Regions from separate parts of the Homo sapiens genome. Here region 1 is linked to region 2. The links come from fine-mapping of genetic effects on gene expression. A gene starts in region 2. The other region holds a variant in brackets. All regions are shown on one strand. Distances are between the middles of the regions. Region 1 has its middle 40 kb from the start of COLGALT1. Region 2 holds the start of COLGALT1 (collagen beta(1-O)galactosyltransferase 1).

What was found. PIP is the estimated chance that this variant, and not a neighbour inherited with it, causes the effect.
Region 1: its variant is the best candidate, but not a certain one, in a credible set for the expression of COLGALT1 in tibial nerve (GTEx, PIP 0.66).

The regions. Positions count from the first base shown.
Region 1 is chr19:17,593,424-17,598,797 of GRCh38, reverse strand. No RefSeq gene overlaps it. Among named protein-coding and RNA genes, the nearest start is that of COLGALT1, 40 kb to the right of the region's middle. RefSeq lists an enhancer at 1-265. The variant T/C (reference allele first, on the strand shown) is at 2,123.
Region 2 is chr19:17,553,570-17,558,943 of GRCh38, reverse strand. COLGALT1 (collagen beta(1-O)galactosyltransferase 1) reads right to left here and starts at 3,295. Exons shown (of 12, transcript NM_024656.4): 1 at 2,971-3,295. The coding sequence starts at 3,230. NIBAN3 (niban apoptosis regulator 3) reads right to left here. Exons shown (of 15, transcript NM_001321827.2): 15 at 5,304-5,374. RefSeq lists a silencer at 3,128-3,217.

The DNA.
Region 1 (5,374 bases), 40 kb before region 2:
CTCGGGAGGCTGAGGCTGGAGAATCATTTGAACCTGGGAGGCAGAGGTTACAGTGAGCCGAGATCCTGCCATTGCACTCCAGCCTGGGTGAGAAGAGTGAAACTCCATCTCAAAAAAAAAAAAAAAAAAAGGAAGGAAACCCCGTCTCTACTAAAAATACAAAAAATTAGCCGGGCATGGTGGTGGGCGCCTGTAGTCCCAGCTACTCGGGAGGCTGAGGCAGGAGAATGGCGTGAACCCAGGAGGCAGAGCTTGCAGAGAGCCGAGATCGCGCCACTGCACTGCAGCCTGGGCGACAGAGCAAGACTCCGTCTCAACAACAACAGCAATAATAGAAGCTGGCCCAAACCCACCAAAACCAAGATGGCGACAAGAGTGACCTCTGGTCATCCTCACTGCTACACTCCCCCCATCACCATGACAGTTTACAAATACCATGGCAACATCAGGAAGTTACCCTATTTGGTCTAAAAACGCAAGGCATGAATAATCTACCCTTCCTTTAGCATATCATCAAGAAATAACCATAACAATGGGCAACCAGCAGCCTTGGGGCTGCTCTGTCTATGGAGTAGCCATTCTTTTTTTTTTTTTTTTTTTTTGAGATGGAGTCTTGCTCTGTCACCCAGGCCGGAGTGCAGTGGCGCGGTTTCGGCTCACTGCAAGCTCCACCTCCCGGGTTTCATGGGCGTCCATGTGAAGAAAAAGGAGCATCTATACAGGAGCTCAAATGGGCTGTACCCTGTAGCATTCTGAGGACAGGTCTGACTTCTGAGAAGGGAAAGTGGTAAAAGTATTGTCCGTCCTTTTTAAGTTGGTGGCTGAGCTTGGTGAGGTGTGTTTTTAAAAGACCTTTAGTCCGTTCTACTTTTCCTGAAGATGGAGGACTGTAAGGGATATAAAGATTTCACTGAATACCAAGAGCCTGAAAAACTGCTTGGCTGATTTGACTAATAAAGGCTGGTCTGTTATCAGACTGTATAGAGGTGGGAAGGCTAAACTGAGGAATTATGTCTGACAGAGGGGAAGAAATGACAGCGGTGGCCTTCTCAGACCCTGTAGGAAAGGCCTCTACCTATCCAGTGAAAGTGTCTACCTAGACTAAGAGGTATTTTAGTTATCTGACTCGGGGCATGTTGAGTAAAGCTAATTTGCCAGTCCTGAGTGGGGCAAATCCTCGAGCTTGATGTGTAGGGAAGCGAGGGGGCCTGAATAATCCCTGAGGAGTAGTAGAATAGCAGATGGAACACTGAGAAGTGATTTCCTTGAGGACAGATTTCCACGATGGAAAGGAAATGAGAGATTCTAAGAGGCGGACTAGTGGCTTGTACTATAGCATAGCCTGCCTTTGCTGGTGTGTGGCGATTAGGCCTGGTGGAACTGCCATCAATAAATCAAGCGTGATCAGGGTGAGGAAAAGGAAAGAAGGAAATATCGGGAAATGGGGTGAATGTCAGGTGGATCAGAGAGATACAGTCATGGAGGTCAGGTGTGGTATCAGGAATAATGTGGGAGGCCAGATTGAAGTCCGGGCCAGGAACAATGGTAATTGTGGGACTTAACAAAGAGTGAGTACAGCTGAAGGAGCCGGGGAGCAGAAAGCATATGCGTCAGGTATGAGGAAGCAAATAGATTTTGGAAGTTATGAGAAATGTAGAGAGTGAGTTAAGTATAGTTTGTGATTTTTAGGGCCTCTAAATGTATTAAAGCAGTGGCAGCCGCTGCACGCAGACATGAGGGCTAGGCTAAAACAGTAAGGTCAAGTTGTTTGGACAGAAACGCTACAGGGTGCGGTCCTGGCTCTTGTGTAAGAATTCTGACTGCACTAACCATGCCTAGGAAGGAAAGTTGTTGTTTTGTAAGGGATTGAGGTTTGGGAGATTAATCAGACACGATCAGCAGGGAGAGCACGTGTGTTTTTATGAGAATTATGCCGAGATAGGTAACAGATGAGGATGAAATTTGGGCTTGATTGAAGTAATGGGGGCTGTCTGTGAAGCCTTGCGGCAGTACAGCCTAGGTAATTTGCTGAGCCTAATGGGTGTCAGGGTCAGTCCAAGTGAGAGCGAAGAGAGGCTGGGATTAAGGGTGCAAAGGAATAGTAAAGAAAGCATGTTTGAGA[T/C]CCAGAACAGAATAATGGGTTGTAGAGGGAGGTATTGAGGATAGGAGAGTATATGGGTTTGGCACCACGGGGTGGATAGGCAAAACAATTTGGTTGATAAGGCGCAGATCCTGAACTAACCTGTAAGCATCGTCTGGTTTTAGGACAGGTAAAATGAGGGAATGGTAAGGAGGGTTTATAGGCTTTAAAAGGCCATGCTGTAACAGGAGAATGATAACAGGTTTTAATCCTTTCAAAGTGTGCTGTGGGATGGGATATTGGCATTGATCGGGGTAAGGGTGATTAGGTTTTAATGGGATGGTAAGGGGTGCATGATCGGTCGCTAAGGAGGGAGTAGAGGTGTCTTATACTTGTGGGTTAAGGTGGGGAGATACAAGGGGAGGATGTGAAGGAGGCTTTGAACTGGGGGAAAAGGTGGCAATGTGGTGTGGCTGTCACCTAGGAATAGTCAGGGAAGCAGATAATTTAGTTAAAGTGTCTCGGCCTAATAAGGGAACTGAGCAGGTGGGGATAACTAAAAAGGAGTGCATAAAAGAGTATTGTCTTAAGTTGGCACCAGAGTCGGGGAGTTTTAAGGGGTTTAGAAGCTTGGCCATCAATACCCACAACAGTTATGGAGGCAAGGGAAACAGGCCCTTGAAAAGAAGGTAATGTGGAGTGAGTAGCCTCCATATTGATTAAGAAGGGGATGGGCTTACCCTCCACAGTGAGAGTTACCTGAAGCTCGGTGTCCGTGATGGTCTAGGGGGCTTCCGAGGTGATCGGGCAGTGTCAGTCTTCAGCCACTAAGCCGAGAAGATCTGGGAAGGAGTCAGAGAGCCTTGGGCCAGAGTTCCAGGGGCTCTGGGAGTGACTGCCAGGTGAGTTGAACAGTCCGATTTTCAGTGGGGTCCCACACAGATGGGATACGGCTTAGGAGGAATCCTGGGCTGCGGGCATTCCTTGGCCCAGTGGCCAGATTTCCGGCACTTGTAGCAAGCTCCTGGTGGAGGAGGTTCTGGAGGAATCCCTGGCCACTGCGGTTCAGGCGTTTGGAGTTCTTTTGTGCTGGAGATGTGGCTGGGGTTTGTCTCACAGTGGAGGCAAGGAACTGCAGCTCAGAAATACATTGCTACTTGGCTGCCTCTACTTTATTATTGTACACCTTGAAGGTGAGGTTAATTAAGTCCTGTTGTGGGGTTTGAGGGCCGGAGTTTAATTTTTGGGGTTTTATTTAATGTCAGGAGTGGATTGGGTAATAAAATGTATATTGAGAATAAGACAGCCTTTTGACCTCTTAGGGTTTGGGGCTGTAAAGCGTCTCAGGGTTGCTGCCGAACGAGCCACGAACTGGGCTGGGTTTTTCATGTTTGATGAAAGAGTCTAAATGCTAACTGATTTGGGAGAGGTCGGATAAAGAAAAAGGAGCATTAACCTTGACTATGCCTTTAGCTTCAGCCACCTTTTTAAGAGGAAATTGCTGGGCAGGTGGGGGAGGGCTAGTCACGGAATGAAACTATAAACTGGACCGGGTGTGAGGAGGGGAGGTGATAAAAAGATTACAAGGTGGAGGAGCGGAGGCTGAGGAAGAATTGGGACCTAGCTCGGCCTGGTGAGCAGCAGCCTGGGGAGGAGGGGAGAGGTCAGATGGGTCTGTAGAAAAGGAAGATTAGAAAGACTCAGGGACGCTTGGGGATGGGACTGAGGGGACAGGAGAGACGGAAAGAAGGAAGACTTGGGACGAGTTGCACTGGGCACAGAGACTAGGGAGGGACCGATGTGTAAAAGAATGCCTGGACGTCAGGCACCTCAGACTGTTTGCCTATTTTACGACAAGAATTATTTAGATCTTGCAGGATGGAAAAATTGAAAGTGCCGTTTTCTGGCTATTTGGAACCACTGTTGAGTTTGTATTGGGGTCAAGCAGCATTGCAGAAGAAAACAAGGCATTTAGGTTTTAGGTCAGGTGTGAGTCAAAGAGGTTTTAAGTTCTTGAGAGCACAGGCTAAGGGAGATGGAGGAGTGGAGCATGGAAGGTTGCCTATAGTGAAGGAGGCAAGCCCAGAGAAAAGAGAGAGTAGAGACACAGAGGGAAGGGGTTTGGGGGTTCTTACCTTCCAGAAAAGCCAGAAAGGGGTCAGGGTGCAAAAATAAGGGGTTGGGGCACAGAGATAAGAGGTCAGGGCACGGAAATAAGGGATGGGGCGCAGAGATAAGAGGTCGGGGCATGGAAATAAGGGATCGAGGCACAGAGATAAGAGGTTGGGGCATGGAAATAAGGGATTGGGGATTCTTGCCCCTTAGAAAAGCGGGACTTGCCGCTAAGGGTGAAGGACCAAGGCAAGCATCCCTGCATGGTCTGACACCTCTGAAATGTGGGTGAATAATCAGAGAGGCGTTCTTGCAATGATTAAACACCAAGGGAAGGCTGCCTTCCTAGTCCGTGACCGGTGCCAGAGTTTTGGGTCCACAGATAAAACATGTCTCCTTTGTCTTTACCAGAAAATGAAAGGAATTGAAATTAAGAGAAGGGAGAGATTGAAGTGTGGCGCCAATATTGAAAGGAGAAAGAGGTTGAGGGATAGTGAGGGAGGTTGGAGAAGAGAGTGAAAATAGGCCGCTTACTGGATTTGAAATTGGTGAGATGTTTCTTGGGCTGGTCGGTCTGAGGACCCGAGGTCGTAGGTGGATCTTTCTTATGGAACAAAGAACAGGAGGACAGGGGATTGATCTCCCAAGGAAGGTCCCCCGATCTGAGTCACGGCACCAAATTTCATGCGTGTCTGTGTGAAGAGACCACCAAACAGGCTTTGTGTGAGCAATAAAGCTTTTAATCACCTGGGTGCAGGTGGGCTGAGTCTGAAAAGAGAGTCCTTGAAGGGAGATAAGGGTGGGGCCATTTTATAGGATTTGGGTAGATAAAGGAAAATTACAGTCAAAGGGGGGTTGTTCTCTGGCGGGCAGAGTGGGGGTCACAAGGTGCTCAGTAGGGGAGCTTTTGAGCCAGGATGAGCCAGGAGAAGGAATTTCACAAGACAATGTCATCAGTTAAGGCAGGAACCGGCCATCTGGATGTGTACATGCAGGTCACAGGGGATATGATGGCTTAGCTTGGGCTCAGAGGCCTGACACTGGGTTCATGCCATTCTCCTGCCTCAGCCTCCCGAGTAGCTGGGACTACAGGCGCTCACCACCATGCCCAGCTAATTTTTTGTATTTTCAGTAGAGACAGGGTTTCACCGTGTTAGCCAGGATGGTCTCAGTCTCCTGACC
Region 2 (5,374 bases):
CGTGATCCGCCCACCTTGGCCTCCCAAAGTGCTGGACTTAACAAGCGTGAGCCACCGCGCCCGGCCCATTTCTCCCTTTCCATGTCAGTTTCCTCATCTGTAACATGGGGGTGGGAACAGGACCCAGTTTACTGGGAAGTGGAAGGATTAAACAAGCTGATTTTGGAAAGACCCATTAGTGATTGGCTGTTTTATTACTGAGCATCTAAGATCTTGCAAACCACATTCACTAACAAATATGTGTCACTTAATTTTTTTTTTCTTTTGAGACAGAGTCTTGCTCTGTCACCCAGGCTAGAGTGCAGTGGCACAATCTTGGTTCACTGCAATCTCCGCCTACCAGGTCCAAGCAATTCTCCTGCCTCAGCCTCCCGAGTAGCTGGGATTACAGGTGCCCACCACCATGCCCAGCTAATTTTTGCATTTTTAGTAGAGATGGGGTTTCGCCATGTTGGCCAGGCTGCTCTCGAACTCCTGACCTCAGGTGATCCACCTGCCTCAGCCTCCCAAAGTGCTGGGATGACAGGAATGAGCCACCGCACACGGCAATTTTTGTAATGTATAGATCAGGCCAGGCACGGTGGCTCACGCCTGTCATCCCAGCACTTTGAGAGGCCGAGGCGGGTGTATCACCTGAGGTCAGGAGTTTGAGACCAGCCTGGCCAACATGGCGAAACCCCATCTCTACTAAAAATACAAAAATTAGGCCGGGCATGGTGGCTCACGCTTGTAATTCCAGCACTTTGGGAGGCCGAGGCGGGTGAATCACTTGAGGCCAGGAGTTTGAGCCTAGCCTGGCCAACATGGTGAAATCCCATCTCTACTAAAAACACAAAAAATTAGCTGGGTGTGGTGGCGGGCACCTGTAATCCCAGCTACTCAGGAGGCCGAGGCAGGAGAATCGCTTGAACCTGGGAGGAGGAGGTTGCAGTGAGCCGAGATCGTGCCACTGCACTCCAGCCTCAGCAACGAGAGCGAGACTCAGTCTCAAAAAATAAATAAATAAAAAATATTAAAAAATGAAATGTATATATCAGAAACCAGCTGGGTGCAATGGCTCACGCCTGTAATCCCAATATGTTGGGAGGCCGAGGTGGGCAGGTCACTTGAGCTCGGGAGTTCGAGACCAGCCTGGCCAATAGGGCAAAACCCCATCTCTAGAAAAAATACAAAAATTAGCTGGGCGCAGTGGCATACGCCTGTAGTCCCAGTTACTCAAGAAGCTGAGGCAGGAGAATCACTTGAGCCCAGGAGGGGGAAGTTGCAGTGAGCTAGGATTGCACCACTGCACTCCCGCCTGGGCGACAGATGTAAAACCCTGTATCAAAAAAAAAAGTATATCTCAGCAGGGCGCTGTGGCTCATGCCTGTAATCCCAGCACTTAGGGAGGCCGAGGCAGGCAGATCATGAGGTCAGGAGATCAACACAAGCCTGGCCACAATGGTGAAACCCTGACTCTATTAAAAATACAAAAATTAGCCAGGCATGGTGGTGCGCACCTGTAATCCCAAGCTACTCGGGAGGCTGAGGCAGGAGAATCACTTGAACCCGGAGGCGGAGGTTGCAATGAGCTGAGATCGTGTCACTGTACTCCAGCCTGGGCGACAGAGCAAGATTCCGTCTGAGAGAAAAAAAAAAGTATATCTCAAAGTATATCTCATAAATCCCTTACCCTGCCTTCATCTTCTCCTGTGAGCCACACCACTTCAGTGGGCTGCAGTCAATTATTCATTCAACAAACATTTGTTAAGTACCAATTGTGTATTTGGATTATCCAGACTGAGAAATCAGGTGGAAGGAAAAGCGACATTTGGGAGTTTAGTTTGACCGTAGTGCCAAAAGCTAATTCTGCCCAATAAATTAAGTTGACAATAACACCAGCAATGACAGTAATCATGATAATAAAATCACTGAGAGCCAAGCCCATGCCAGACCCAAGGGCTCCACATCCATTAACTGGATAATCTTCAGAGACAAACCCAAAAAGAGAATTATATTAATACGCTCATTTTCTTTTCTTTTTCTTTTTTTAGAGGCAGGTCTTACTCTGTAGCCCAGGCTGGAGTGCAGTGGTGCAATCATAGGTCACTGCAGCCTCGAACTCCTGGGCTCAAGCGATTCTCCTGCGTCAGCCTCCTGAATAGCTGGGACTACAGGCACACACCACCGCACCTGGCTAATTTTTGTATTTTTTTTCTAGAGACGGGGTTTTGCCATGTTGGCAAGGCTGGTGTCGAACTCCTGAGCTCAAGTGACCCGCTTACCTTGGCCTCCCAAATTGCTAGGATTACTGCGTGAGCCACTGCACCCGGACCCATTTTCCATTTGAGAAAACTGAGGCAGGGAGTGAGAAGTCACCAGTCAAAGGTTTCTTCAGAGCTCTGCCCCATTCCCTACCAAGAAAGCATCCACTTCCTCCTGGGCCATCTGGTCCTGGACTCCACCCACGCCGGTCTGAGGGCAGGGGTTTGACTGGGGCCTGGAGCCAGGCTGAGTTCAAGCTTAAGGGCAGCAGCCGGCACAGAAAGGCTTGCTGTTAGATGTGGCCTCTGGCAACGCCCCAGTGGGGGCTCTGGGCTCCGTCCTTTGGAGGTGTACGTGCCCCAGAGGGAGTTAGAGCCCCAGTTAGTGAGGCCGGAGCTGCCCTAGTAGGGTCCAGCAGGCAGAAGCGGTGCCCAGCCCACCCCAAAGGAGCCAGCAGGAGGAACTCGGTCCCGCTTGTGTTGTGGGGAGGGCTGTGTCTGGCCCCATGGGAGGACAGCAGGCAGGGGGCACGCGTGGACCCGTCCCGATGGGGGCAGCGGGCAGGGGCATGCGTAGAACCGTCCCGATGGGGGTAGCGAGCAGGAAGCACGCGCGGACCCGCCCAGAAGAGGACAGCGGGCAGGGGCTCGCGTGGACCCACCCCTATGGGGACAGCAAGCAGGGGCTCGCGTGACCCGCCTGATGGGGACAGCGGGCTCGACTCACCATAGCGCCGTGCGCTCCCGCGGGTGCCGCAGCCGCTCGAGTGCGCCCAGCGTGGTGGGCAACGCGTGGGCCGCGTTTCGCGCCAACAGCGCGATGAGCACGCGCGGCGCCTGCAGGGGCGACTCCGGGCTCCAGCGCTCCTCGGGGAAGTAGGCGTCGGCGCCCGGCGGGGCCCCCGGCGGCAGTGGCGCCAGCAGCAGAAGCAGCAGCGCCAGGAGCGGCTGCCCGCGCCGCCGGCCCGCGCGTGGGGCCGCCGCCATCGCGCCACGCGTCTCCTTTAAGTCGTTTTTCTGCGGGAGGACTCTGGCCGCGCCTTAAAGGGGTCATAGGGGCCCCGCCCGGCCGCGCGCCTTAAAGGGGAGGAGCGCGCCGGGCGTGAAGTCCAGGCCCCGCCTCCAGACGCTCTCCGAGTCCCAAGGCCCGGAGTGACGTCACCTGCAGCCCTACCCAGGACGCCCCGCCCCCGCACCGATCTTAAAGGCACATAGCGCTCGGAGCGCGTGGAAGGGATGTTAGGGGTAGCGTTAGGGTTAGGAACCCGCGCTTCCTCCAGGCGCCTCCTACCACTGAGACCTCCGCCAGATGCGCCGCCCAATTTCCCCATGTATAAAACCCGGGCTGTGCCACCAGGCGGACTTGGCTACTTAGGACCTGGTTTGGGACCCAAGAGACCTTAGCCTCAGTTTCCTCTGCTGCAACGTGGGTTTTGCCATCCTGGTTTTGGATCTCACAGGGATGTCATTGAGGGTTGTGGAGAATAAAGGTCATGACGTCCACAGACCTGGCGTCACATTCAGTCCCCGCCTTGGGCTTGCTATATGTGAGCCTCAGTCTGTCCATCTATAAAATGAGATCATAGAGACCCTATAGGGTTGGCGTGAAAATAGAGCCAGGGCATGATAATGGACCGTTCTGGGCACAAGCTCTTCCAGAGACAAGGGCCATGTTTTCATGGAAACGCTGTCAAGGGATTGTTTTCCAATACTCTAGAGCCGCATTTTCAAATTGATTGACTTAGTATCACACTTTTTTTTTTTTTTTTTTGAGACGGAGTCTGGCTTTGTTGCCCGGGCTGGAGTGCAGTGGTGCAACATAGCAAGACCGTGCCTCTATTTTTAAAAACAATAAAAACTTTAAAAAATACATCTGAACATTATTATTATTATTATTATTATTTTCTTTTTTTTTTTTTTTGAGACAGCGTCTCACTCCATTGCCCCGGCTAGAGTACAGTGGCGCGATCTCGGCTCACTGCAACCTCCGCCTCCCGGGTTCAAGCGATTCTCCTGCTTCAGCCTCCTGAGTAGCTGGGACTACAGGCACGCGCCACCACGCCCGGCTAATTTTTGTTTATAGTAGAGATGGGGTTTCACCATATTGGCCAGGCTGGTCTCGAACTCCTGACCTCCTGATCCGCCCACCTCAGCCTCCCAAAGTGCTGGGATTACAGGCGTGAGCCACCGCGCCCAGCTTATTATTATTTTCACAGAGAGGGTCTTACTCTGTGGCTCAGGCTAGAGTGCAGTGGCATGATCACATGATCATGGCTCACTGCAGCCTCAACCTCCTGGGCTCAACTGATCCTCCTGCCTCAGCCTCCCAAGTAGCTGGGACTACAAGTGCACTCAACCACGCCCAGCTAATTTTTAAATTTTTTGTAGAGATGGAGTCTCGCTATGTTGCCCCGGCTGTTCTCAAACTCCTGGTCTCAAGTAATCCTCCCCCTTCAGCCTCCCAAACTGCTGGGATTACCAGTGAGCCATCATGCCCCGCTAAAACTTAATTTTTAAGAATGATACAGGCCAGGTGCAGTGGCTCACGCCTGTAATCCCAGCATTTTGGGAGGCTGAGGCAGGCGGATCACTTGAGGTCAGGAGTTCGAGACCAGCTTGGTCAATATGGTGAAGCCCCCATCTCTTCTAAAAACACAAAAAATTAGCCGGTCATGGTGGCGCTTCGCCTGTAATCCCAGCTACTACGGAGGCCGAGGCAGGAGAATCACTTGAACCCAGGAGGTGGAGGTTGCAGTGAGCCAAAATCGCACCACTGCATTCCAGCCTGGGTGACAGAGTGAGACACCGTCTCAAAAAAAAAAAAAAAAAGGTAAAAACAAATTTACACTCTGTGGACTTGATGAGGAAAGGTCTTTTCATATTAAGTAAGAAAAAGGAGGTGACAAGATACATCCCATCCCATCTGGAAGGATTTAGACCCAAGGGCAAACAATGTTTTTCTCAAAAGGGGCAGGATGACAAATTCTTGTAGCTGCAATTGTTCCAGAATTAACATCTACATCCCGTCCGGGGTAAAAGGAAGACAGCTAAAGAAGCCTATGAAGTGCAAATGTATTGAGCAAATGTATTTCGGAAGGTGGGGTTGGAGGGAAATAGGTGGAAAGGTCAGG